Homo sapiens: one gene and its partners. The protein of the gene in region 5 interacts with the protein of the main gene of each other region in a pairwise test. Each region holds a gene or a part of one and is shown on either strand. Other genes may lie near its edges. The genes, in order: ATF6, NEK3, EHD2, EGR2 and BPGM.

Region 1 (3,754 bases), on a different chromosome or scaffold from region 5:
AGAATACGGGTTTTCTGTTGATTATTTGTCATTCTTCTTGACTTGGTCCTTTCTACTTCATGTCTATGAACCCATCCTCGAAGTTCATGATTTAACCTATAAAATATAGTTTAATTAATTAAACATAGAAATTAATTAAACATAGAAATGGATGTTTCACCCTGTGGGTGGAAATGAATCTAATCATTTGTAGGTTCCAAAGAGCATTCCAAGTGCCTGATGACTCAATATTGCTTTTTGATTTGAAAAAGTTGACACTTAACGTTGTTTTTAATAAGACATGCATTTTTACATGGTAAACCTGTCAACCATGCATTCAAACTTCAAAGAAAACTACAGCTAAATACCTCCCAAATATAAACACTGGATGCTAAGGTTTTTCCACCAAAAAAAGTATTTCCTTGCCAGGCACAGTGGCTTACACCTGTAATCCTAGCACTTTGGGAGGCTGGGGTGGGAAGACTGCTTGAGCCCAGGAGTTTGAGATCAGCCTGCGCAACACAGTGAGACCCTGTCTCTACAGAAAATTTTTTTAAAAAATTAACTGGGCATGGTGGCATGTGCCTGTAGTCCCAGCTACTCAGGAGGCGAAGGCAAGAGGATCACTTGAGCCTGGGAGTTTGGGGAAGCGGTGAGCTATGATCCAGCCACTGCACACCAGCCTGAGCAACAGAGCAAGACCCTGTCTAAAAATAAAATAAAATAAAACAAAACAAAATAAAAAGTATTTCCTATTTCTGTTCTTGGGCTATATAAACACAAACATTTGAGACACATTGTAGAGAACTTAACAAGTCATAGGACCCCTAACAACAAATAGATGCATTAAAACCTCTTGAAAATCATGCTCTTTTGGGAGAAGAAAAAGAATGAACTCAATTGCCTGGGGTAAAAAAAAATTCAAATTTTTCAACACACGAAATAAAAGCATAGCTCATATATAACTTCCCTTATTTTGCTTACTTTTTACAGCAGCTGTGAAGATGTTAAACTATGTTTAACTGTAGTTGATTACTACATATCACAAAAAATCTGAGGTAGTTTTTGAGGTTTTAAGGGTAAGGTCCAAAATCACAGGAAAAAAAAATTCAAGGGAAAAATTGATAAAGAAGTGTGTACTAACGGTAAAGTATCTCCAGAATCACATACCCACAAATTATTATCTTCCTAATTGGAAGAAAAAGGTACTTTCTGCTATGAATGTTACCAACTGTAAGCCTAACACCATGAAATTTTAATATTAATTTCATTCTGTAGTTTTTAAAGAAGACATATTTAAGTAAGCAACTATCACATAAAATAGACCCATCACCATCTCCATGAGGTTGGTGGAGAAACTGGACAACTAATATGCCTACAGTTATCCACAAATAATTCAGAGATTCTCTCAGTCACTTAGTGAACTTGACCAATTACTTGTCTAGGTTCCAAAACTAAACATGGGAACCAACTCAGATGTTTCTGCAATAATCTACAACACTCACCTGAGAGACTCTGTTGTGTTAATTAGGGGCTGACAAGGAGGTGGAGGAATGTAAAGCAATGGTTCTTCAGTTAGCACCATCAGGGCTTTGTCATTTGAAACAGAATGATCATATCTGAAACATGGATGCACAAAATTTGTTTCCTTGTATCTTAAATTCCTAAGAAGTTTGCTATAAGAAAATCATCATTAGTGTTAACTTTTCATGGAAACAAAAATATAGTAAACAGAATATACTGCAAGATAAAGTATAAAATACAAAACCTTATTTTACATGAAATGTCATTTTCTGATTTTCTACAGAGACAGGATGGTAATTCACATTTGTCTAATCACCATTTATTGAGCAATTAATTTGGAATAAGCGATACAATAACACATGGTTCATCATATCTTCAATGAGCTTAAGACATGCACAATGCTGCTGGTACAGAGGTAGTAACACAGTAACGGGGTAATTGAGGCGAAAATCAAGTGGTATTATGTGACCAGACTAAAGTTTAGGGGTCATTCACAATTCTATGATAATAAAATTGGATAGTATCTGTAAAACAGGTAGGGGTGTGTGTGTGTGTGTGTGTGTGTGTGTGTGTGTGTGTGTGTTAAGGATAGGGTGAGACACAATTCTATGATAAAACTGGATAGTATCTGTAAAACAGGTAGGGGTGTGTGTGTGTGTGTGTGTGTGTGTGTGTATGTTAAGGATAGGGTGAGACATAAAATGCTTGGCAGGAGAAAAGTGAAAGAGTTGAAAAGCCGAATATAAACTATGGGATCATGGAAGAATGTGAATCACTAATAAAACAACAGAGTGACTGACATTAACTAGTTACTCCATTTGCTTCAAAAATATATACTTTCCTAGCCATCGCACTGATGTAGATCATGTGAATTCATATCCAAGGTGTGACGTAGGGAGCAAAACTGGAGTTGAAAGTTAGAATTTGAGATGGGGATATTACTGTTATTTATGCTCTTCAGTCTGCAATCTTAATCTCTCTCACTAACAAAGCTTGCATCTCTCTTGAATTTCTTTATATAGGATGATCTGGATTTAGAAAACTAGATATGCTAATATCTCAAAAGAAAACATGTAAACATATAAAACTGAACATAGTGAGACTCACACTTTTCATTTATTCATTCAACAAATACTTGCTGCATACCAACTGTGCACCAGGTATTGTGCTAGGTGCTGAGAATCCAGTAGGGAATGAGAGAATCAAAGTTTCTGTCCCCAAAGACCTTAATGGGGAAGATGGACCAAATAGAAGAAAATAAATGCATAAAATAATCCGAACTCTAGTAAGTGCTATGAAAGAAACAAACAAATGGTTGAAATGGAAAAGCAATGGTAGTATATACTTTAGATAAAATGGTCCGAGAAGGAGATGGTAGTTACATCAAGGCCTAAATGATGAGAAGACGCCGCCTCTATAGAAACTGGGGTAAGAGCATTCTAGGCATAAAAGAGGCAGGTGGGGGAAAGGTGGGCTCAAAGAACTTTAAAAAGACCACTGGCTGAAGAGTTGCAAGCAAGTGGGGAGGTAGAGAGGGAACAGGATGAGGCTGGAAAGGAATCATAATAAGGTCATAATAAAAGACCAGGTCATAATAAGGAATTACTAAATGTAATAAGAAGTCATAAAAGTGTTTCAAATAAAGAAGTGATATATTTCAATTTACATTCATACCTTGCCATGGTACCAAAAATGGACTCAATGGAGGCAAAAGGGGAAGCTGAGACACTGATTAGGAAAGAGCTATGGCAATCCTGGCAAGAACTGATGATGGCATGGACTAGGTTTGTGGCAGCAGAGACGGAGAGGAGTGGACCAATTCAAGACAATTTTGGGGAAGAGTATCAACAACACTTGTTGAAAGACAGGAATCAGGATTTCTGGCTTAAGCAATGGAAAGGAAAAAACACAGTTGTAGAAAATTGGTTGGAAGTAAAACAGGGAGAGGAACTGAGTTCCACAGTGCACATGTTAAGTTTGAAATGTTAAAACAGAGATGTCAAAGAGACTATTGGATATGTGACTCTGGAGACTCAGAAGAGAAGTCTGGACTGAAAACATAAATTTGAGAGTCATCAGGACATATAGATATGAACTGTGCATGAAATTATAGATGAGTCACCTAGGCAGAAAGAAAATAAAAAAAGTTTACAGTTCCAAACCTTGAGAGTTGGGTAAAAAAAGAGCCCACAAAGATTACTGTGAAGCAGCAGCCAATAAAAAAAGGAAACTAAAAAACCATAGTAACACA
Region 2 (6,144 bases), on a different chromosome or scaffold from region 5:
CTGTATGTACTTTTTAAAGTGGTACTTTTGTTTTTCAACTTGAAATATTATTGTGCTAAAGAATGCTGATGATGAAATGACATCACGGCAGTATCTATAGAAAAGTATGTTTTCACATCTCTAAATTCTCAACTTTAAATTTCAGATCATCATGGAATATGGTGAGGAAGTATTAGAAGAAATAAAAAATTCGAAGCATAACACACCAAGAAAAAAAAGTAAGAATTTTGACAGAGTATTTTTTGTTAAGTGCTCTTTTAAAAATATACTGTAACAGAAAAGAAATGTATAATTTTTAAGTTATTAGAAATGATTATCGGAGATACTCCTCAAATGAACCTTTTCTTTTTGTTACTTTAGATGTAATTCTGTACTGAATACTTTTTGATCCCTGAAAAAATTGGGATTTAAAAAAGCCTAGTTTTGGATATTTTAGTGACGGAAAGATTATGCTGTCATTATTAGTTCCATATTTTCTCTGGCTTGTTGTGTAGGTCAGGTAGAAGGCTTCTTCTGTTGCCTGACCTAAGAATCTATCCATGAAAATATAGCACTAATCTTGTAGGAAAATGTATCCCAAGTTTCTGAAGAACCATCGTATAAACAGACTTTTAAAAAGAGAAGCTTTTCTAATGTAAACTGTGGACTCTGGGTGATGGGTGGTAGTGATGCGTCGGAGTAGGTTTATCGACTGTAATGGTGTGGCATGTTAGTATTGGGGAGGTGGTATGTGTGTGGGGACAGGTGGTATATGGGACTCTCCGTATTCACCACTCAGTTTTGCTGTGAACCTAAAACTGCTTGTTTTTTTTTTTTGAAATGGAGCTTCACTCTTGTTGCCTAGGCTGGAGTGCAATGGCACAATCTCGGCTCACTGCAACCTCTGCCCCCCAGGTTCAAGTGATTCTCTTGCCTCAGCCTCCCAAGTAGCTAGGATTACAGGCATGTGCCACCATGCCTGGCTAATTTTTTGAATTTAGTAGAGATGGGGTTTCACCATGTTGATCAGGCTGGTCTCGAACTCCTGACCTCAGGTGATCCACCCACCTCGGCCTCCCAAAGTGCTGGGTGGATCTGCTCTTAAACAGTAAAATATCCTAATTAAAGACAAAAACCAGAGCCTTTTCCAAAGCTGTGAATCATCCACATAATAGCTACATGAAATTTTCATACATCTATAGCCTATCCTGAGAAAATATCAAATTTAATTTATTGTCTCTTTGGAAGTTGTCATCTCTGAATTTTTTCAAAGCTATTTTTATTCGCTTTCATTTCTCATCAGTGATTTCCTTCTGAAGAAATCCAACAGAGATAGTAGCTATGAATGGAATACAGGAGAAGAATTAAGAAGTGTAGGAGATCATTCACTGCTGGGACATGTTGCAAAACCTCTATTGCCTGGTGCTCTTTATCATAATGTTATATGCAGATACTACAAAAGAAACATTTTGAGAACTGTATTGTTTTCTTAAACTTAACTTTTAAGTGTTGTTTTTGGAAGGATGCAAACCCTTCAGTCTTATAACTCAACCTTTTCTCCATTAGTTAAGAGATAGCGGCTGGGCGCAGTGGCTTACGCCTGTAATCCCAGCACTTAGGGAAGCCGAGGCGGGTAGATCATGAGGTCAGGAGATCAAGACCATCCTGGCGAACATGGTGAAACCCCGTCTCTACTAAAAATACAAAAAATTAGCTGGGCGTGGTGGCAGGTGCCTGTAATCCCAGCTACTCAGAAGGCTGAGGCAGGAGAATGGCGTGAACCTGGGAGGTGGAGGTTGCAGTGAGCCGAGATTGCGCCACTGCACTCCAGCCTGGGCAACAGAGCGAGACTCCGTCTCCAAAAAAAAAAAAAAGAGATAGCCAGTTACCTTTGTTTTACCAGTTTGCTTTAGCATAGGTGTTATTCTGTGGCTTTTGTTCACATCTCAAGGTAGTGGGAAATTAGTTTTAAAATGCTGGGCAAGAAAAAAAGAGACAAAAAAATTTCAAGGTAGTTTGGAAGAATGTAGGGTTTTTTTTAAATTAACTTTATTTTATTTTATTTTTGAGACAGAGTCTCACTGTGTCTCCCAGGCTGGACTGCAGTGGTGCAGTCTCAACTCACTGCAACCTCTGCCTCCTGGGTTCAAGCAATTCTCATGCCTCAGCCTCCAGAGTGGCTGGGATTACAGGCATGCGCCACCATACCTGGCTAATTTTTTTTTTTTTTTTTTTTAGTAGAGACAGGGTTTCACCATGTTGAGCAGGCTGGTCTCAAACTCCTGACCTCAGGTGATCCACCAGCCTTGGCCTCTCAAAGTGCTGGGATTACAGGGATGAGCCACCGTACCCGGCCAAAAAAGTATAGTGTTACAGTTTCTAAAAAGAGGAATAAGTAGTTAGAGAAATGCCACCAGACTGGGACCATATGTCTGATGGCATCTCCAGTTTAATCTGTAGACAGACCAGAATAATGAAATGGAACAGGGCAGGGATTGCATCTGATTTGCTCACTCTTGTATTCTCAGTGCATCATCATCCATGTTCAATAGCAATTTTTTAAAACGTTGAATGAATAAGGGACATGAACCACTATGAGGCATAGCCATTCCTACCAAAGGGATCAATTGCCAGGGTTCTCTCCTGACTCCTCCTGCTGGTCTCTTCTGAGTTAATAAACAGCTCACTTCTTTTTAGGGATACTTATTCCACCAGCTGTGATAGCTAACAGGAAAAGCACGGACTCCACTAGCTAGCATGCACCAAAGGGGAAAATAACCTTAAGTATGCAGAGTATGTTACCTCTTAGTGCTTAAATGGGTTGGCATAAGTGAATAGAGATGTCTTTTAACTTTTGGATTTTAACTTTAGGAATGAAACAGTGGAAATAGCCTCTTTCAATAACTGAGATGTATTATTAGGTGATTAAAGCTTGTTATTCCCATTCAGGATATCAGAGAGCTTTGGCTCTTTGACTTTAATAACCTCACTCACTTCTCCAGCTGTATGAAAATCATATTAGGAACTTAATAGGATGATCCTTTATGTGTTTTATCTTTCTACCTTCTCTCTCTCTTTTAAAAGCAAACCCCAGCAGAATCAGGATAGCTTTGGGAAATGAAGCAAGCACAGTGGTAAGTGCTTTAAAATTACTTTTATGAGGCCGGGCGCGGTGGCCGGGCGTGGTGGTGCAAGCCTGTAATCCCAGCTACTCGGGAGGTTGAGGCAGGAGAATCAAGTGAACCTGGAGGCGGAGGTTGCAGTGAGCCTAGATTGCGCCATTGCACTCCAGCCTGGGCGACAAGAGCGAGACTTCATCTCAAAAGAAAAAAAATACGTTTATGAAATATCTACCTCCTGGATACCGGGTTACCCTTAAGTGCCATAAGATATTTGGAAGACTGTGACCTGGTCCCTCTAGTTAAGTACTTCTTCCTTCATTTTTTGGCATGGGAAATAACTGGTAGCTGTTCATCTGCACTGTCAGCTGAGCCACTTTAGGTCGCCATTTATTGTTTATTTTTCCATTTATTATTATTATTATTTGAGATGGAGTCTTGCTCTGTCACCCAGGCTGGAGTGCAGTGGCACCATCTTGGCTCACTGCAAGCCCCGCCTCCTGGATTCATGCCATTCTTCTGCCTCAGTCTCCTGAGTAGCTGGGACTGCAGGCACCCGCTACCATGCCCAGCTAATTTTTTGTATTTTTAGTAGAGACAGGGTTTCACTGTTTTAGCCAGGATGGTCTCGATCTCCTCACCTTGTGATGCACCCATCTCAGCCTCCCAAAGTGCTGGGATTACAGGCGTGAGCCACCGTGCCCGGCCTCCATTTTTGATTATTGATGATAGTGGTTTCAATACAGATGTGGAAGAATTTTGTCTTGCTTTCAGTCATGAAAATCTTGTGTTATCCTGGCTTTTTTTTTTTTTTTTTTTTGAGATAGGGTCTCACTTTGGCATCCAAGCTGGAGTGCAATGACGTGAACATGGCTCACTGCATCTTCGAACACCTGGGCTCAAGTGATCCTCCCACCTCAGCCTCCCAAGTATCTGGGACTACAGGCATGTGCCACCATGCCTAGCTTTTTTTTTTTTTTTTTTTGGCATTTTTTTAAAGAGATGGGATTTTGCTATGTTACCTGGGCTGGTCTCAAACCCCTGTGTTCAAGTGATCCTCCCGCCTCGGCCTCTTAAAGTGCTGGGATTATAGGTGTGAGCCATTGGGCCTGGCTGCTTTTTGGTTCGTTTATTTTGAAACAGAATCTCCCTCTGCCACCCAGGCTGGAGTGCAGTGGCGTGATCACGGCTCACTGCAACCTCTGCCTCCCGGGTTCAAGCAATTCTCATGCCTCAGCCTCCTGGTTAGCTGGGACCACAGGCACGAGCCACCGTGCCCAGCTAATTTTTTGTCTTTTTGTAGAGATGGGGTTTTGCTATGTTGGCCAGGCTGGTCTTGAACTCCTGACCTCATGTGATCTGCCTGTCTTGGCCTCCCAAAGTGCTAGGATTACAGGCATGAGCCACCACACCTGGCCTGCTTTTTGTTTTTTTATGGTGGTAGAATATACATAACATAAAATATGCCATTTTAGCCAATTCTGAGTGTACAATTGAGTGGTGTTAATTACATTCATAATACTGTGCAACCATCACTACTGTCTATTTCCAAAACTTTTTATCATCCCAAACAGAAACTCTGTACCTGTTAAGCAATAACTCCCTCTTCCACCACTGCAGCCCCTGGCAGCCTCTAATCTCAAATCTGGTAGCCCCTGGTAGCTGCTCAAATCTTTGTGTGAAATTGCCTATTCTAAGTATTTCATGTAAGTGGAATCATACAATATTTGTCCTTTTATGTCTGGCCTCTTTCACTTACATAATGTTTTTAAGTTCTTCTGTGTGTCAAAACTTCATTCCTTTTTATTGCTGTGCTGAAGCTGAGTAACATTTAGATTACTATTTAGATCTTAACATTTTTCTGTTCAATGCTTTGTAGCACCTCCTTGTTATCCCAAGAATCAATTTTCAGGCTGGCATTCGGGGTCCTGTTCATCTAGCCCTGGGCAACTGTGACATTCTTTTACACTGAAGCTTCCCTAAAGCTGTGGATATTAACAGCCGATCCATGTTTCAGTGTTGTCACACCCCCCTTAGCAAATTGTGTACTATTGATGTTTTTTTCAGTATTTCAGTCAACCTTTCTTTCTTTCCTTCTCTCCTTCTCTCTCTCTCTCTCTCTGTTGTCTAGGCTGGAGTGCAGTGGCGTAAACACCACTCACTGCAGACTCAACCTCCTGGGCTCAAGGGATCTTCCCACCTCAGCCTCTTGAGTAGCTGGAACTACAGGTGCATGCCACCATGCCCGGATAATTTTTTAACTTTTTTATAGAGATGAGGTCTCACTATGTTGCCCAGGCTGGTGTTGAACTCTTGGGCTTAAGTGATCCTCCCACCTTGGCCTCCTAAAGTGCTGGGATTTATAGGTGTGAGCCACTTCACCTGGCCTAACCTTTCAATTCAAAAAGGAAAAGATGTTGTATGACAACAAATTGCTCTCTTCATGGAATGTACTAGTAATTAAACTTTTAAATTTTTTGAATGAACCATAGGTTCTAAATAAATAACAACACCCCACCATTATGTTGCTACAAATGGAATACAGACCTCTATACTTTTTTTCTTTTCATTGTAATGTCTGTTTTTTCCAGTTTTTGAGGTATAATTTACATGCCACAAAATTTACCCATTTTTATGCACAATTTGATAAATTTTGGTGATGGTATTTAAATATCCATATAACCCCTGCCACAGTCATCATATAGAACTTCCAGGTGGGGCAGAGTGGCTTACGCCTGTAATACCAACACTCTGGGAGGCAGAGGCAGGAGCATTGATTGAGGCCAGGAGTTTGCGTCAAGCCTGGGCAACACAATGAGACCCCATCTCTACAAAAAATTAAAAATTTTAGGTGGGCATGGTGGCACATGCCTGTAGTCCCAGCTACTGGGAAGCTGAGGCGGGAGGATCGCCTGAGCCTGGGAAGTTGAGGAGGGCAGTGAGCTATGATCGCACCTCTGCACTCCAGCCTGGGCAACACAGCAAGACTCTGTCTCAAAAAGAAAAGAATTTCCATCCCCTAAAATGTTTCCTTGTGCCCTTTGCA
Region 3 (6,756 bases), on a different chromosome or scaffold from region 5:
AGCCACCGGGCCTGGCCCAAGGTGATTGATCCACATTTTTGCAGATGAGGCTACAAGAAGGGCAGAGAGGTCAAGTCATTTGCCTGAGGCCACCCAGCTGGCCGGGATTTGAACCAGGCATACTGACTTCACTAGCCTAGGTGCTCCCCTGGATAAGAGAGCAGAGACAGGCATGGGAAGAACTGGGTAGAGAGAAGGGAATTGGGGCTGAGAAGGAGGGAAACACAGTCAGGGAGGGGACAGAGAAGGGGGACAGCAAGATGCACCCCTGGGACAGAAAGACGTGCCCCCAGGGCCGGGCGCAGTGGCTCACTCGTGTAATCCCAACACTTTGGGAGGCTGAGGCAGGTGGATCACTTGAGGCCAGGAGTTCAAGACCAGCCAGGCCAACATGGTGAAACCCCAACTGTACCTAATAATACAAAAACTCGCTTGGCGTGGTGGTGGGTGTCTGTAATCCCAGCTACTCAGGTGGCTGAGGCAGGAGAATTGCTTGAACCCAGGAGGTGGAGGTTGCCATGAGCTGAGATCGCACCACTGCACTCCAGCCTGGGCGAAAAGAGCGGAAACTCTGTCTTAACAAAAAGAAAAAGAAAGATGCGCCCTGGGCTCGCGGCTGGCACACCTGTTGAGGAAGGTGTTTCCGAAAGGGTTGAGTTTGCGGAAGGGCTTGTCCGGGTCCACGACGAGGGCGTTGCCGGGCACGGTGCCCTCAGTGTCCCCGTGCATGACGGCCACAAAGCAGTCGGTGGTGGGCTCAGGCCCCACGCGGGAGCCGGGCACCTCCTGCTCCAGCAGGTACTGGATGAAGCTGGTCTTGCCCGTGCTGTACTGGCCGGCCACCAGCACCATGGGCTTGCCGTCGAAGTCTGCGTCCTCCAGGGCCGGCGAGTGGAAGGCCCCAAAGCGGTAGTGCTCCTCCAGCGGCAGCAGCTTCGTGCGGTACAGCTCCTTGAGGGCCGAGGTCACCGTGCGGATGGCCTCGGGCTGCTGGCCCCGTGCCCCGCCCCGCTTCAGCCAGCTGAACATGGTGGCTGCACACCGCTCACGGGGTTCACGGAGAGACGTGCAGATGGAGAGCTGCCTGTGGGAGGGGGAGAGGGCATGAGCATAGGCGGCCCAGCCAAGGAGGAAGAAAGGGGTCTGAGTGTAGACTGTCTGGGTGACAGGATGGGTGGAGGAGGAGGAGGAGCACAGATATTTGTGGTCACAAATATGTGGTCACAGAGCATGGATGGCAGGTGGCAGGAGGAAGAATGGAATTGGGCCAGGCGCGATGGCTCACACCTGTAATCCTAGTATTTTGGGAGGCTGAGGTAGGAGGATTGCTTGAGGTCAGTAGTTGAAGACCAGCCTGGGTAAAATAGTGAGACCCCCATCTCTACAAAAAAAATAATTAGCTGGGCATGGTGGTGCATGCCTGTAGTCCTAGCACTTTGGGAGGCTGAGGCAGGAGGATTGCTTGAGCTCAGGAGTTCAAGGCTGCAGGCTGCAGTGAGCTATGATCATGCCGCTGCACTCCAGCCTGGGCTACAGAGTAAGACCCCATCTCAAAAAAAAAAAAAAAAAAAAAGGCCAGGCACAGTGGCTCATGCCTGTAATCCCAGCACTTCGGGAGGCTGAGGCAGGTGGACCACCTGAGGTCAGGAGTTTGAGACCAGCCTGACCAATATGGTGCAATCCTGTCTCTACTAAACATACAAAAAATTAGCCAGGCCTGGTGGTGGCCACCTGTAGTCCCAGCTACTTGGGAGGCTGAGACAGGAGAATCACTTGAACCCAGGAGGCAGAGGTTGCAGTGAGCCGAGATCCCGCCACTGCACTTGACAGAGCGACACTCCATTTCAAAAAAAATAGGGAGATCGTAGCGAACCAGCTGAAGGAGGAGAAAGATTAATGGTGACATGGTTGAAGAAGGGGGATTGATGGTGGTAGTGGAAGACCAAGAGATGGACAAGGCGAAGGATGCAGAAGCTGCCTGGAAGAAACGGATTCCTTAATCGCTTCATTCATTTCTTCCTCCCTTCTCCCTTCCATCATTTGACACCTTTTCACTGAAATCACTCACTCCATGCTTCAGGCACTGTGGACCCAGAAATGAGCCAGAGATCATCCCCTACCCACCCAGGGCCCCCAGTAAGGACCCAGACACATGCCAGACATCCAGAGGAGGGCATGAGAAACAGACCACAGCACCAGTAAGACTCAGGGCAGGGTTGACTTTTGAGCTGCTCCATGAAGAGCAGGCAAGACAAGGGGATTTAGGCAGAGAGGACGGTGCGTGCAAAGGTCTGGGGATGTGAAAGGTCCTGGTGTACTGGGAGCCATGAAACATCTGGGTAGGTGGCCAGACACAGGGGCACAAAGAGGAGGGGTGAGAAATGGAGCTGAGAAGGTTGCCTGGGTGCACCCAGGTCATGAGGGCTGTTGGGTGTTAACAAGAAAAATAATGCAACATTTATGATCACTGCATGCCAGGTACTGTACTAACTCACTTAACATTTATAACCCTGTAAAGTAGGTCTATTATCATCCCTGCTTTGCTTTGCTTTTCTTTCTTTTTATTTATTTATTTATTTATTTATTTATTTATTTATTTATTTGGAGATGGAGTCTCACTCTGTAGCCCAAGCTGGAGTGCAGTGATACAATCTCAGCTCACTGCAGCCTTCACCTCTGGGGCTCAAGGGATTCTCCTGCCTCAGCCTCCCAAGTAGTTGGGACTAGAGGCATGCACCACCACACCCAGTTAATTTTTTTTTGTATTTTTAGTAGAGATGGGTTTCACCATGTTGCCCTGGGTGGTCTCGAACTCCTGAGCTCAGGTGATCCACCCACCTCAGCCTCCCAAATTGTTGGGATTACAGGTGTGTGCCACCATGCCGGCTCATCTCTGCTTTTTTAACAAGGCAAAGGAGGCTCAGGAAGACAGCAATAAATTACCCAAGATCACTTAGCTGGAAAATGCTCAAGCTGGGACTCAAACACAGGCAGCCTGACCTCAGAGGTTGCAATCCTATTATAGGTCTAAAGATCTGAGTTAGGGAGGTTAGCCATGACCAACCCAGGAGCAATGAGCACCTCCAGCACCCAGACTGTGTTCTCTATCTTCCCTTACTAGCCTTTTATTCACCGTAGGATCTGTAGTGATGTCCCCTCTTTCATTCCCGATATCAGCCACAGGTGTGGGTATTTGCTTTTTTTAAAAAAGAAAAACAAAAACGATTGCTCCCCGTTGATGCTTATGATTTTACTGATCTTTTCAAAGAATCAACTTTTGGTGAGATGGGAGTCTCTAAATACCATTCCCCACTAAAAGAACCTGGGACTCCTTAGAGAAATGGTGGATTCCAGGGCGGGGGCAGGGAAGAACAAGTGAGCCTGGGTCAGAAGGTGAGGAAGTGCTCAAAGGCCGATAGGGCATGTTACAGGGACAGAGGACCCAGCTTGCAGGGGTGCCCAGTGGCCAAACATGGGGCAATTTGAGCATCAAAATAACTGCAAATCAAATATGCTAAAATCCATAAAATCATGAGACTTAAAAGGGGTGGCCAGGGAGTAGGGGAGATAAAAGCAAAAGGAGTTCGTAAAGGAGTGGCAAGAATGGAAAAGAGAGGCAGGATCTGGGATGTGGGCAGAGGGAGAGGGCTCTGGGCGGTGTCCCAGGCAGGGAGGGCCCTGAGAGAGAGCTGGGGAGAATGCTATCAGCGGTGGCCGATGGAGCTGGTGAGGCAGGAGAGGGGCTCTTGAGTGGCTGGAGGGACCAAGTTAGCTGATATGGATGAGGGCGTGGAGGGAGACCCTGCAGAGAGGATCTCTTCTAGCCCAGGGGATAGGGAGGGGTGTTGGGGGAGGATGGAGGAGACTGGGGGAGTGTGAGAGGCTGCGAAAGACTGGAGGAAGAGTGGGAGGAAGAGTGGGAGGAGTGGGAAGAGTGGGGGACATGGTTACAGACTGGGGGGACTGGTGAAGACTGGGGGACACCTGGGGAGACCGTTACAGACTGGGGACAGGGTGGCAGGGAGCAGGGGTCAGGCATGAGGAACCAGGGCAGGCTTGGGCGGGGGTCGGGAGGCGACAGCTGCGGTGCTGGGAGCACTCACCGACGGGGCGCGCTGGCGGCTGCAGCGGGCTGGGCAGGCTGGGAGAGGGTGGGGTCCCGCGAGGATCCGAAGCGCCCGCGGAGCGGCCTGTGCTCGCGGTCCCGTCCGGAGCCGTCTGAGCCGGGTGGGGCCCGGAGCGGGGAGGACGGGAGGGAGGACAGGAGGGAGGGGCGGGACGAGGCGCCCCCCTCAAAACCGGGCGCCCGGCCTCTGGCGCCCCCTTGTGGGGAGTGGGGAAGACGCCTTAGCACGGCGGGCGAGAGCTCCAGCGTCCAGCCTGGGGTTCGAATTCCGCCTCCACCTCCAGCGTTGGGCTGCTCCCCAGTCTGTCTCTCTTCTTAACACGGGAATCACAACAGCAGCAGCAATAATAGTAACAATAACAGGTCGGGCGCCCTGGCTCACGCCTGTAACCCTAACACTTTGGAAGGCCAGGGTGGGAAGATTGCTTGAGGCCAGGAGTCCAAGACCAGCCTGGACAATATAGCGAGACCCCATGTCTATTAAAAATAATAATAAATAATAAAATAATTTAGCCAGGCACAGGGGTGCACACCTGTGATCCCAGCAACTTGGAAAGCTGAGGTGGGAGGATAGCTTGAACCCAGGAGGTCAAGGCTGCAGTGAGCTATGATTGTGCCACTGCACTCCAGCCTGGGTGACAGAGCGAGACCTCACCTCTAAAAAAAATAATAGGACGGGGCGCGGTGGCTCACGCCTGTAATCCCAGCACTTTGGGAGGCCGAGGCGGGTGGATCACTTGAGGTCAGGAGTTCAAGACCAGCCTGGCCAACATGGTGCAAACCCATCTCTACTAAAAATACAAAAAAATTAGCTGGGCGTGGTGGCGGGCGCCTGTAGTCCCAGCTATTTGGGAAGCTGAGGCAGGAGAATCACTTAAACACAGGGGAGGTGGAGCTTGCAGTGATTGCGCCACTGCACTCCAGCCTGGGGACAGAGCAAGACTCCATCTCAAAAATAAATAAATAAACAAAAATTAGCTGGATGCAGGCACGCACCTGTAGTCCTAGCTACTTGGGAGGCTGAGGCTCCCAAGTTCCAGAATCACTGGAACCCAGGAGGCAGAGGTTGCAGTGAGCCAAGATCACGCCACTGCACTCCAGCCTGGGTGACAGAGTGAGAATCCATCGCAAATAAATAAGTAAATATAATATTAATATTAAAACTTAAGGGAGTTGATGAAACTTCTCAGCTGACAACCCTCCCTGGCTCTCCTCTCTCTCAGAGTAAAAGCCGAAGTCCACACCAAGGCCCACAAAGCCTAGCATGATCCACCTACATCTCCCCTGTCCCCCTTCCTCAGGCGGCTCCAACCGCCGTGGCCTCCTCACCATTCCTCAGACACACCCCCAACCCTCCAAGTTCATGGCCTTTGCACTTGCTGACTCCTCTCCATGGAGTACTTTCCCCATAGGGATCTGAATGCCTCACTCTCTCCCCTCCTTCAGGTCCCTGCTCAAATGTCACCTCCTCAGAGAAGTCCTCCAGGATCACCCTGGCTAAGGTAGAACCCACTCTCTACCTCTTATCACTGCCCTATTTTTCTCCACAGCCCTCCCAACCACTCTGCATATTCCACATTTCTCTGCCTAAGGGACTGTCTTTGCCCTGAGAACATGAGCCCCGTGAGGGCTTTGCACAATGCCCAACTCCCTGCAGGGGCTCAGTAAACATTTGTAGAAACAATCCCTAATGTTGACTGAGCCATTCCTATGTGCAGGCACCGCTCTGAGCTCTTTGCATGCATGTATTAGCTCATCGAACCCTCATCATATCTCCAAGAAACAGGAGTTTTGGGGTTTTGGTTTTTGTTTTTGTTTTTGAGACAGTCTTACTCTATCGCCCAGGCTGGAGTGCAGTGGCACGATCTCAGCTCACTGCAACCTCCGCCTCCTGGGTTCAAACTATTCTCCTCCCTCAATCTCCCCAGTAGCTGGGATTACAGGTGCATGCCACCACACTTGGCTAATTTTGTTTTGTTTTGTTTTTTTGAGTCAGAGTCTCGCTCTGTCGCACAGGCTGGAGTGCAGTGGCACGATCTCGGCTCACTGCAAGCTCCGCCTCCCGGGTTCACGCCATTCTCCTGCCCCAGCCTCCCGAGTAGCTGGGATTACGGCGCCCACCACCATTCCCGGCTAATTTTTTGTATTTTTAGTACAGACAGGGTTTCACCATGTTAGCCAAGATGGTCTCGATCTCCTGACCTCGTGATCTGCCCGCCTCGGCCTCCCAAAGTGCTGGGATTATAGGCATGAGCCACTGCGCCCGGCCTAATTTTGTGTTTTTAGCAGACAAGGGGTTTCACCATGTTGGCCTGGCTGGTCTCGAACTTCTGACGTCAAGTGATTTACCCACCTCAGCTTCCCAAAGTGCTGGGATTATAGGCATGAGCCACCATGCCCAACTGAATTGTATGCTTTAAATGGGTGAATTGCATGGCTTCTGAATTATATCTCAATAAAACTGATATTATATATTATATTATTATAATTATAACATTTTATTTATTTTTTCTATTTTTTTTGGAGGTAGACTCTTGCTCTGTCACCCAGGCTGGAGTGCAGTGGCGCGATCTTGGCTCACTGCAACCTCTGCCTCCCGGGCTCAAGCGATTCTCGTGCCTCAGCCTCTC
Region 4 (4,120 bases), on a different chromosome or scaffold from region 5:
CAGCTCGTCAGAGCGGGAGAACCGCCGGTCGCAGCCTTCTGCTGGGCACGGGTAGGGCCTCTCGTGCACCGGCGTCTTGCTGGGTCTGTTGGGGTACTTGCGAGGCCTCAGAATGGGCCGCAGTGGCAGGTGGTGTGGGTTATAGGCGGCGGCGGCGGCGGCTGCTGCTGCTGCTGAGCTGCTACCAGGCAGCCGGGGTCCCTCGCTGCCTCCACTGGCCCCTGGTCCGGTCACCCCAGCACTGGGGCCCCCCAGGGTAAAGTTACGGATTGTAGAGAGTGGAGTGAGTGGAGGGGGCACCCGCAGGGTGTCCAGTGGGCAGGGAAAGGGCTTACGGTCTGGGCCAGCTGTACCATGTAGGTCTCTCTGGCACTGAGATGGAAAGAATCCAGGATAGTCTGGGATCATTGGGAAGAGACCTGGGTCCGTGGCTGGCTTGGGGGATGGATAGGAAGGAGGTGGTGGGTAGGCCAGAGAGGAAGAGGTGGAGGTGGTGGCTGCTGACAGGAACGCAGAAGGGTCCTGGTAGAGGTCTCCTGCACAGCCAGAATAAGGAGGAGGAGGCGGTGGCGGAGAGTACAGGTGGTCCAGGTCAGGCTGGGTCTGGGACATGGTGCACACACCCAGGGGTCCTGTGGCCAGTGGGTTGGGGGAGGCAGAGGTGACGCTGGATGAGGCTGTGGTTGAAGCTGGGGAAGTGACCCCTTGCAAGATGCCTGCACTCACAATATTGATTATGCCTTCTGGGTAGCAGCTGGCACCAGGGTACTGAGGGTCAATGGAGAACTTGCCCATGTAAGTGAAGGTCTGGTTTCTAGGTGCAGAGACGGGAGCAAAGCTGCTGGGATATGGGAGATCCAACGACCTCTTCTCTCCAGTCATGTCAATGTTGATCATGCCATCTGGGGAGGGGAAAGGCAGAATGGAGGTGGAACAATGAAAATACAGCCAGGACTCCCTTCTCACCCCCGCTCACATAGGTCCATTTCCAAGGCCGAGAGTCTCAGCACTGTAGAGCTGTGGCAAAGTCCAAAAGGTGGGGAAATTGAGGCCCACAGACTGTAAGAAGAGGCCAGCCCAACTGTGGCAACCCATTGACAGTATGGAACTCAAGAACTACCTCCAAAAAAGCAGAATGAGCTTTTCCCAACTCCCCTCCACCCCCAGCCATCTGTGGCTCTAGTCCCCAATAAAAAACACCCAATAATAGCAACAACAATATTTTAAAAAGCCTCATCCGCCCGGAGCTTTTCTCCCTCTTTTTTGCCTGGGGGTTCCACGGCTGAGGCACCAAGACAAACACCACCCAAGAATCGACCTATCCCAGTCAGTGCCGTGATGGTGCCAAACCGAGAGGAGAGCCCGAGAAGGGGGTGGGTGATTTCCCGGCTGCTCCCCATCCCCGGCGCCTTGTGCCTTTTTCTCCCTCCCTCTCCCGCTGCGCTTCAGCCGAGGGCTGCTGGAGCGAATGGGGGATGTAGAGGAAGGAGTCCGTAGGTTTCCGTGCCCTCCCAATCTTCTCCGCCTTTCCCGACAGCCGCGCGTCCCCGCCTCAGCCCAAGGCCAGTGGCCCGGCCTCGAGGAAGGCGCGGGGGCCGCGAGAGACGACTTTCCACAGCATCGCCAAGGAAACCGGCGTCGCCGGTGCCCCCGCGGGCCTCCCTCGGCAGTCCGGGGGCTGCTTCCCGCCGTTGCGCGCCCTCCTCCACCACCCACTCGCTGCCTCCGCCGGCCGGAGCCCCCGCCTTACTAACCCCCTCAACTTCGCGGGCGGCGGGCAGGTGGGGGCGCGCCTCCAGGCCGCAAGAAGGGAGCGCTCCGAGATTTTCCCGGGGTCGGCTCTGCCCAGGAGGGAGCTACCGACGCTTTCCCCTGGCGCTTCTCCGCCGCTCGGCTCTCCAGGCGCGCAGCTCTCCCCGAGAGCCCCGAACTTTACCGTCACTTTGCCCCTGCCCCGGGAGAGGGGAGGTCGAAGTGCTGCCGGCCAGAGGGCCTACGCAAGCCTCGAAACCCGGGGGGACGCCTCTTCCACCCCCATCCCTGCGCTCGCCCGGGGCTGGGCGCGCCGGGGCGCACGCACGCCGGTTTGCTGGCGACCTGGCGCATCTGCCCGCGCGCCCTGGTCTCAGCTGTCGCAGGTTCCTCCTGCACCCACTTCCAGTCTTCAAAGCCAGTGCAGTCAGCACCGTCCACCTGGAGCCCCAATCCTCTCCTGCGATTCCCGCACACCCACTGCACCCCATCCACCACCTCCGGGCCGCGCAGGTCCGGGCCTGCGAAGACACGCGGCTTACCTCCGGCCACTCCGTTCATCTGGTCAAAGGGGCCTCCCAGTTCGGCATTGGGAAAGATGGTCACCGACGTGGCGGCGAGGTCCTCCACCGGGTAGATGTTGTCAGACAGCTGGTGCACAAAACCACTGAGAGTTACTGGGATTTTGTCTACGGCCTTGGCGGTCATCATTTGCTCCTCGCACAACCTGGAGACCCAACTCCCTCGCTACCTGGAGTGTCAGAAAAGCCGTTTTGGAGAGGGGTTGGACTGAGCCTGGGATGGTATCTCCTTTTGCCCTCCACACTTAAAAACAACCACCACACACACCAAGAAAAAAAAATCAACAGAAATAAAAGTAGCAAACAAGTTGCTGTTTTTTAAGAAATAAGAAAAATGTCTATTTGCCACTGACTCTCTCCTGTCTGTGTTCCGGCTGCTGGGAAGCCAGGAGTTGCTGGTGTAGTGTTATTATAACAGTCAGTGAGTCCCCTCGCCGAGCTATTAATCAATTGCTCCTCGCTCAGTTAGACGGAAAGTGTTGCTCTAAGTATTTATGGGCAGGTCTTCAATACCCGTGACGTCGCTGCCCATATATGGACTGAGGAACAGGGCTGGGCCAGGCGGCTTTTGCCGTCACATGGCTGATTTGCATACACGGGCTCGGCCGCGCGGACTCCGCCGGGCTCGCGACTTCCAGCTCGCAGGCGGCGGGGATCGCTGGGGTCCCGGGCGCGCGGCCCTAGCTGCAGCCTGGGTCCGGGGCGCAGGGATCGCGGGGGAGAGGGCGCGCCATGGACCCAGTCACAGCCACAGCAGGAGAGCGAGCTGCTCCAGGCTGCGGCTCAGCCTCCCGGGGCGGGGAGGAATTCCGGTTCTCTGGGACTTTCCAAAAAAGGCGAAGATCCGGTGCCGGCGGCTCCGCCTCCCTAGCCCTTGTTTGGGAGCCATTCCGGAAAATTAAACTTCGGAAAGAAACCGAGCGGAGCCGAGACACTACAGTCAAACCCCTACTCACTTTCTTGGCAGCTCAAAACCGCAAGCAAAAGGAGGCAGCGAAGAAAAAAAAAGCTACATGCATTCACGGAAGCTGACTGCTTTTTTCTGAATTACTTGGTGGAAAGAAGTGGCTGGTGATAAGAGTGAATGCGTATTGCTTTTTTGGAAAGTCTGTTCTATTTATACAGGAGCGAAAACGGAACAGGTTTGGGTTGTTTGTTTGTTTAAGTATTTTGGGCACCTTGGGACTGGGAGGGTAAACCCTAGGAGGAGCAGAATTACTGTGGGGAGCTTCGAGAGAAATCCTCAGCCGGAGACACCCTCCTTCCTCTGCCCGCGCGCTCCCCGCCCCCCTTCAGCTGCTGCGCGGAGCGGGCGCCCTTCCCGGCGCGTCTGGGCGGTCGGCTGCGTGGGGGCGTCCAGATGGAAGCTTGGACACTCACCCTGCCCCTCCAGACACACATACACACACACTCACACTCGCTCCACTTCCGCTACACACTCCCGCCCCCGCTGCCCTCTTCACACACCCGCTCACACACCTTACACTACACACCTCCCTGTTGACTGCGTCCGCGCGCCGTCGTTGCCAGCAGTGTCCCGGCGGCAGAGCGGGCTCCGGGCTCGCTGGACAGGAGGTTCTATGAAGACACTGGCCTAACCTTCACTACCGGTCCCTGCAGCCACAGAATCCCCCTGACCCCCATAGCCCAGGATCCAGGACCGCGCCCTGCCCGCACCCGAGCCAGAATACACGTACTAGAATAAATATTTTCTCTCCCTCCCCAAAAAACACCTCGGTGAGCCCAGCGCGGTCCTCAGTGACGGCCGAAAGCATCTCTAATCACTT
Region 5 (6,144 bases):
TCCTCTTGTCCATTTACCTTCCCTTCTAGCCATTCCTTTTTTAGTTTCCTGACACCAAACTTGTGCCTTACCCACTCTACTGAAATGGTGCCTCAAAAGACTACAGGTTAGTTACTTCTTACTAAGTGGAGATCATCTTCTCTCATGACTTCTCTAAAACAGACTACTTCCATCAAGAAAAAAAACCCACTAAGATTTTGGTGTAGCATTTCCTCCAGCTCTTCCACGGTTACATCTTGGTCTTGGGTGTCTGCATTTTCTTACCTACCTGTAAGAGTACTATGAAGATGATCATATTAGTCACAGTAGCCAACATTCACAGAGTGCTCACCTGTGAATGTTAGTTCAATGTTACTTGGCACTGTTTGAATCCTCAACCACCATTCCATGGAGTGGCTACTATGATTACTCCCATTTCACAGATGAAGAAACAGGAGGAAAGGTTAACTTGCCTAAGGTAACAGAGGCTGTAAATGGCAGAGCTGGAATTTAGTCTCGAGAAGTCTGTATCTATGCCCTGAACCATTTTGCTACACTGTCACATTGAAACCTGAGGCTCAGTCTTCAGTTCTTGGAAACCCTTTTCTCACTGCTTTAATCACATTAAAATGGATGACTCATAAATTGAAAGCCCCAAATACTCAGTCGCCCTAGCCTGACCAATTAATTCATTCTTCAAACATTTTGCAGATCCCATTTAGGCATGGCCCAATGCTAGGCCTATGAGGAATATGTAATCCAACAAGAATTATGTCTTCATCTTCAGTACGTGTGTGTGTGTGTGTGTACCTAAAACTCAAAGTAATTCACACCATGAGAAAGCACTTCATTAGTAAAAGAGAGGTGGGATGGGAGAGAATATTTCTGAGTAAGGCTTCGTGGACACAGTATTTTTTAAGCTGGATTTGGAAAGGCAAGGTTTAGATTTACAGAAAAAAGTAAAGGAATTCCAATCTAGGGGAACAGTGAGTGAAGGCAAAGGAACAGGTACATATGGAAAATGGCGAGCCCATTCAAACTGGTTGGAGTATAGCTAGAGTAACCATACATCCTGATTTGCCTAATAGGCAAAAAATATTCTTTCCATAAATGCCACCATAAAATTGAAGTTATGGTTCAAGATTAGCATTCTTTTGGCAAGGTCAAGACAGAGAGGGTAGTTAGGAGAAAGAGGCACATGCATCATTATTACAGAACAGTATTGTCTTAGGCCTGTTTCCCCAACATAATTACTACTAGGGCCCCTTTCACACTTAAGTGTCCCATTTGGAAAATTATATGGCCACTGTAAGTATAGGGTATAATAAGGAAGCAGGAGAAGACTAGCCTAGAAAGATAAGAAAAAATAGTGACACAAAAAAAGCCTGTGCCAAAGCATGTAGGTTTTTCTATACATATTGGGACATCATTAAAAGTTTAGTAGCATGCATTTTAGCAGGATCAGGCAGCACTTACTTACAGAAATAGACAGGAAAACCCAGGAGTATGAACACTAGCTGAGAGGTTTTTGCAATAATTCTGGTAACACAGAATAAAGACTTGGACCAGGACAATGGCCGTTTAAGTGAGATGAAGGAGATAAACGTGAAAGACACTATAGCTTAGCTCAGATGTTAGCAACTTTTTCTGTAAACCACCAAATAGCAAATTTTTTAGGCTTTCTAGGCTATACTGGTCTCTGCCATAATTAGGTACAATTGTATAATTCTGCCATTGCAGCTGAAAGCCACCATACATAATATATAAGTGAATAAATCTGTTTCAATAAAACTTCAGGTATGGACACTGAAATTAGAATTTCATATAATTTTCATGCACATGAAATATTAATTTATTTCAACCGTTTTACATGTAAAACCCATGCATAGTTTGTGGGCTGTTCAAAAACAGGTAGTAGACATATGATCCAGCAAGCCCGCCACTGGGTATACATCCAAAAGAAAGCAAATAAGTATACTGAAGAGATACCTGCACTCCATGTTTGTTGCAGCACTATTCACAATAGCCAAGATATGGAAGCAATCTAAGTGCCCATCAACAGATGAACAGATAAAGAAAATTTGGCACATATATACAATGGAATATCATTCAACCATAAAAAGAACGAAACCCTGTCATTCACAACAACATGGATGGAACTGGAGAGCCTAAGGTTAGGTGAAATAAGTCAGGCATGGAAAGACAAATTTCACATGTTTTCACTCATATGTGGGAGCTAAAAATTTTGAAAATTGAATGTATTGCAATAGCAGAATTATGGTTGCCAGAGGCAGGGAAAGGTAACAGGAGCGAGGGGGTTAAAGTGAGGATGGTTAACAGGTACAAAACTATAGTTAGAATAAATAAGATCAGTATTCAGTAGCACAATAGGGTGATAATAATTTATTGCATTTTAAAATAACTAAAATAATGGAATTAGAATGTTCCCAACACACAAAAAATAAATGCATGAGGTAATAGACAAATGCATGAGGTAAATCAATTACTCTGATTTGATCATTACATATTGTATATCTGTACCAAAACATCACATATACCTATAAATATATACAACTATTATGCATCCATAATTTAAAATTAAAAATGTAAATTTTTTAAAAAACGGTATAGGCCAGAAGCCCTCAATATGCCGATATTGGCCTAGCTGGATCCCACACTTAGATCTACTAATGACATCAGCATTTTTAACCTTTAAGCATCCCGTCATAGAATAATCCCAACATTATGAAATCACTAGATTTTATTCTTGGCCAGAACGGCAAGTACCATGAGTAATGGAATCCCATTCATAATTGTTTTTATTCCTCACAGAAGGCAATACTGAAGACATTTAAATCAGTCTGAGTACTTGACTTTTGCTTAACTAAATTATTTAGGAATAGGTTCAAGATTGAACTATAGGGGAAAACTATAGGATTCATCCTGTTAATCTCCTTCAAAAATATCATCTGTCATTTTGACACACTTTACCCCATTAGACATCTTCATAAATTATCCCATAGTGCCTCACACTTCAGGGGAATGTATACTTGCTCAGGAGTAGGTGCTATGTAATTGCTTTGACAATAAACAAATCAAAGAACATACTTTGCAGGTGACTTATAACTTTCAAAGATCTTTCACTATAAATGTATAGAAATTCCATCTAAGTTAGCTATAAAGCAAAGAATATTCTTTCCATAATGCCACCATAAAATTGAAACATAAAATTATGATTCAAGATTAGCATTCTTTTTGGCAAGACAGGGACTGTAGATAGGGGAGTGATGTACTTGCAAGGCACTGCATTTACTAAGGTTACCCCTCTTAATATTTTTGAGATCCCTAAGTACTTTCAACAAATGTAGCATGATCATCTGCTGCTGCTTCCTACTCCTTCATTAAACTATATAATTCCACATATGAAATTATGTGAAATATAATTTCACATTATATTTCTCCCATAACTGAGGCTCCTCTGTTATAAGTACTCCCCATAACTGAGGCTCATCCTGTCTTCCAAACTGACACTCCTGGGACTTTGCTTCCTCCCTTCCTCACGTGTTTGAAAGTTAATAATGCCTAAGACCCTAGTGGTACAACTCACGGACAAATAGGACAAACTACAGGGTAAAGTCCAACTTAAAAACCTAGTTTTTCTTGTATTTCCAACGTTTAAGCAAGAAATTTGATCAGCAATATAATGTTGAAGTTATATAAAATAAGACAAATAGAACCAGAGTCACTTAGATTCAAAGCTCACATTTAAATATTAGTCAGTTGCTACCCTAGACACTCAGATGACGTTTTCCTTGGTCCAAACCCCTTATTGTGTGGCTTTGAGCAACTTTTAACCCCCACTGCAAGAGGAATCTAACTTTATAGAAGATGGGCTGGCTATTATTTGAGGACAGAGAAAAAGAACCATGTCTTTAACAAAGTAAAAAGGAACAGGTCTCAAGGGAAATGAAATCTGGGGCTCAGTTCCTTAAGGCTTTTAATGTTTCTTTTGAGACGCAGTCTCACTCTGTCGCCCAGGCTGGAGTGCAGTGGCGTGATCTCGGCTCGCTGCAAGCTCCGCCTCCCAGGTTCGTGCCATTGTCCTGCTTCAGCCTCCTGAGTAGCGGGGACCACAGGTGACCGTCACCACGCCCGGCTAATTTTTTTTGTTATCTTTAGTAGAGACAGGGTTTCACCATGTTAGCCAGGATGGTCTTGATCTCCTGACCTCGTGATCTGCCCGCCTCGGCCTCCCAAAGTGCTGGGATTACAGGCGTGAGCCACCGTGCTCGGCCAAGGCTTTTAATGTCTTAACAAACTATGCCTTCCCCCAAATCAAGTTCACTATTAGAAGTTCAAACACAACTGTACCTAAAAGTGTTCCATGGTCTATTACTTTTCCTAAGGCTTTGTAGAAACTTTTTCATCTGTACTTGCAGTTATAAGAACATCATTTTACAGGAGCAAATGTTACCACTTACAGGTGTTTTCCAGACACTAAAACCCTCTCATTCCCCAATCTTACATCTACTAATATTTCCTACTGATTGCTTGTTACAAGAATAACCAACCATACCAGGCAGATCCCTACTCATGGCGAAGAGATATACATATGTAATGAGATGTGCATTTGCTCAGGGCATGTTGCATGTTCCAGCCTGCATGGCATCACCACTGTGGACAACACCCACTCATGACGGACCCCTCCTTCCTATCTCTGGTCATTGTCTTCCCCAGGGTAGTAGCTTTTATCAACACAAACTGTGTCCACCAAATTCCAAAAGTCTAAAGTAAAAACAACCTAGATATGAGCCCAGCTCTGCTACTGACTGACAATGTGATCTTAACTTATTTAAATTCTTTGAACCTCAGGTTCCATATCTATAAAGATGAGGATCATGAAACTACTGTTCTCAGGGGGCTATCAGAAAGATTAAATGAGATTATGGTGAAGCACTCTACCAAAAAGTGAGAGGTAGAATGGAGCAGACTTTGACTAACTCATAAATAATGGCACAGATCTCAGGCCCGTCAAAGCAATCCTACCTTGCCGATGATATGAGCAGAAGCGAAAGCTGGGAATAAAGTAAAATGAAGGGAGGAATTAGAGGAGAAATGCTTAAATTAGGTGGTAGAAGGAGGAATGCAATCAAATATTGTGGGATGGAAGAAGGTGATGGTAAGATACAGTCTCAGAAGCTTACCAAGTACTAATATTCTGCAATCCAAATGCTTTAATGAAGTGGTTAACATTTAATTTATATTTTACAAAGTATGTTTTCCTCATATTTGTGGCTAAGTTTCAGCAGAAGGGTTTTGTTATTAAGTAATACTTTTTGTCCTGCCACCCATATAAACATCTTTCATATCAGATTTCATTCCAAGGATGTTTCAAGAAACCATTCGGTTCAAACACGTTTGTGACCTCTGTTCTTCAGGCCCCAGACACACAAAGATGAAGGCCAGGTGAATTTAGGTGCATCAATCATTACTTAAAATGTGCCTCTTAATCTCAACCAACCACAGCAGGCAAAAGAGGAAGAAAGACTAAAAGCTCTACCCAAACACTAACAGTAGTTGCTTCTAAGTGACATTTTTCTGCCACATTATACTTCGGTATGCTCCAAATTTTCTACAATAATCTGGTTTGGTTTAAATAGGAACACAAAAGAGTATATCCTTGTAATGGGGACAAAAATAGGAAGATCAATAAGACCTAGTATTTGCTAGCACAACAGGGTGACTATAGTAAAAAAAAAAACAATTTAATTGTAAATTTTCAAATAACTAAAAGAGTACAATTGGATTGTTTGAAACATAAAGGATAAATGCTTTTGGTGACAGCTACCCTATGTACTCTGATGTGATTATGCATTGCATGCCTATGTCAAAATATCTCATGTAACCCATAAATATATACACCTACTAGGTACCCACAAAAATTAAAAATTAAAAAACAAGAATATATCCTTGAAGCTGGGAACTTTTACTTGCTAATAGATGGTACAGAATTTACTGCAATGAGATTCTGCTTGTATACTAATAATTTTTACTTTAAAACAGACTTTAAATACAGAGTTTATATCTCAGATATAATTTAATGCAACATCTGCTTTCTAAAGATGCAAAAATCGAGATGGTAGGATCGCTTGAGCCCAGGAGGCA

The links.
Region 1: the proteins of BPGM (region 5) and ATF6 interact in a two-hybrid assay, tested with the Homo sapiens proteins (one large-scale study listed by BioGRID and IntAct).
Region 2: the proteins of BPGM (region 5) and NEK3 interact in a two-hybrid assay, tested with the Homo sapiens proteins (one large-scale study listed by BioGRID and IntAct).
Region 3: the proteins of BPGM (region 5) and EHD2 interact in a two-hybrid assay, tested with the Homo sapiens proteins (one large-scale study listed by BioGRID and IntAct).
Region 4: the proteins of BPGM (region 5) and EGR2 interact in a two-hybrid assay, tested with the Homo sapiens proteins (one large-scale study listed by BioGRID and IntAct).

The regions. Positions count from the first base shown.
Region 1 is NC_000001.11:161,849,566-161,853,319, reverse strand, and holds part of ATF6 (cyclic AMP-dependent transcription factor ATF-6 alpha), read right to left. Parts: intron 1,656-3,754; coding exon of another isoform or gene 1,599-1,655; coding exon 1,485-1,598; intron 97-1,484; coding exon 1-96.
Region 2 is NC_000013.11:52,137,989-52,144,132, reverse strand, and holds part of NEK3 (serine/threonine-protein kinase Nek3), read left to right. Parts: intron 1-145; coding exon 146-218; intron 219-3,063; coding exon 3,064-3,113; intron 3,114-6,144.
Region 3 is NC_000019.10:47,710,886-47,717,641, reverse strand, and holds the start of EHD2 (EH domain-containing protein 2), read right to left. Parts: upstream 4,221-6,756; 5' UTR 4,104-4,220; intron 1,085-4,103; 5' UTR 1,030-1,084; coding exon 626-1,029; intron 1-625. UniProt on the Homo sapiens protein: ATP- and membrane-binding protein that controls membrane reorganization/tubulation upon ATP hydrolysis. Plays a role in membrane trafficking between the plasma membrane and endosomes. Important for the internalization of GLUT4.
Region 4 is NC_000010.11:62,813,567-62,817,686, forward strand, and holds the start of EGR2 (E3 SUMO-protein ligase EGR2), read right to left. Parts: upstream 2,801-4,120; 5' UTR 2,464-2,800; coding exon 2,295-2,463; intron 903-2,294; coding exon 1-902. UniProt on the Homo sapiens protein: Sequence-specific DNA-binding transcription factor.
Region 5 is NC_000007.14:134,648,771-134,654,914, reverse strand, and holds part of BPGM (bisphosphoglycerate mutase), read right to left. Parts: intron 1-6,144. UniProt on the Homo sapiens protein: Plays a major role in regulating hemoglobin oxygen affinity by controlling the levels of its allosteric effector 2,3-bisphosphoglycerate (2,3-BPG). Also exhibits mutase (EC 5.4.2.11) activity.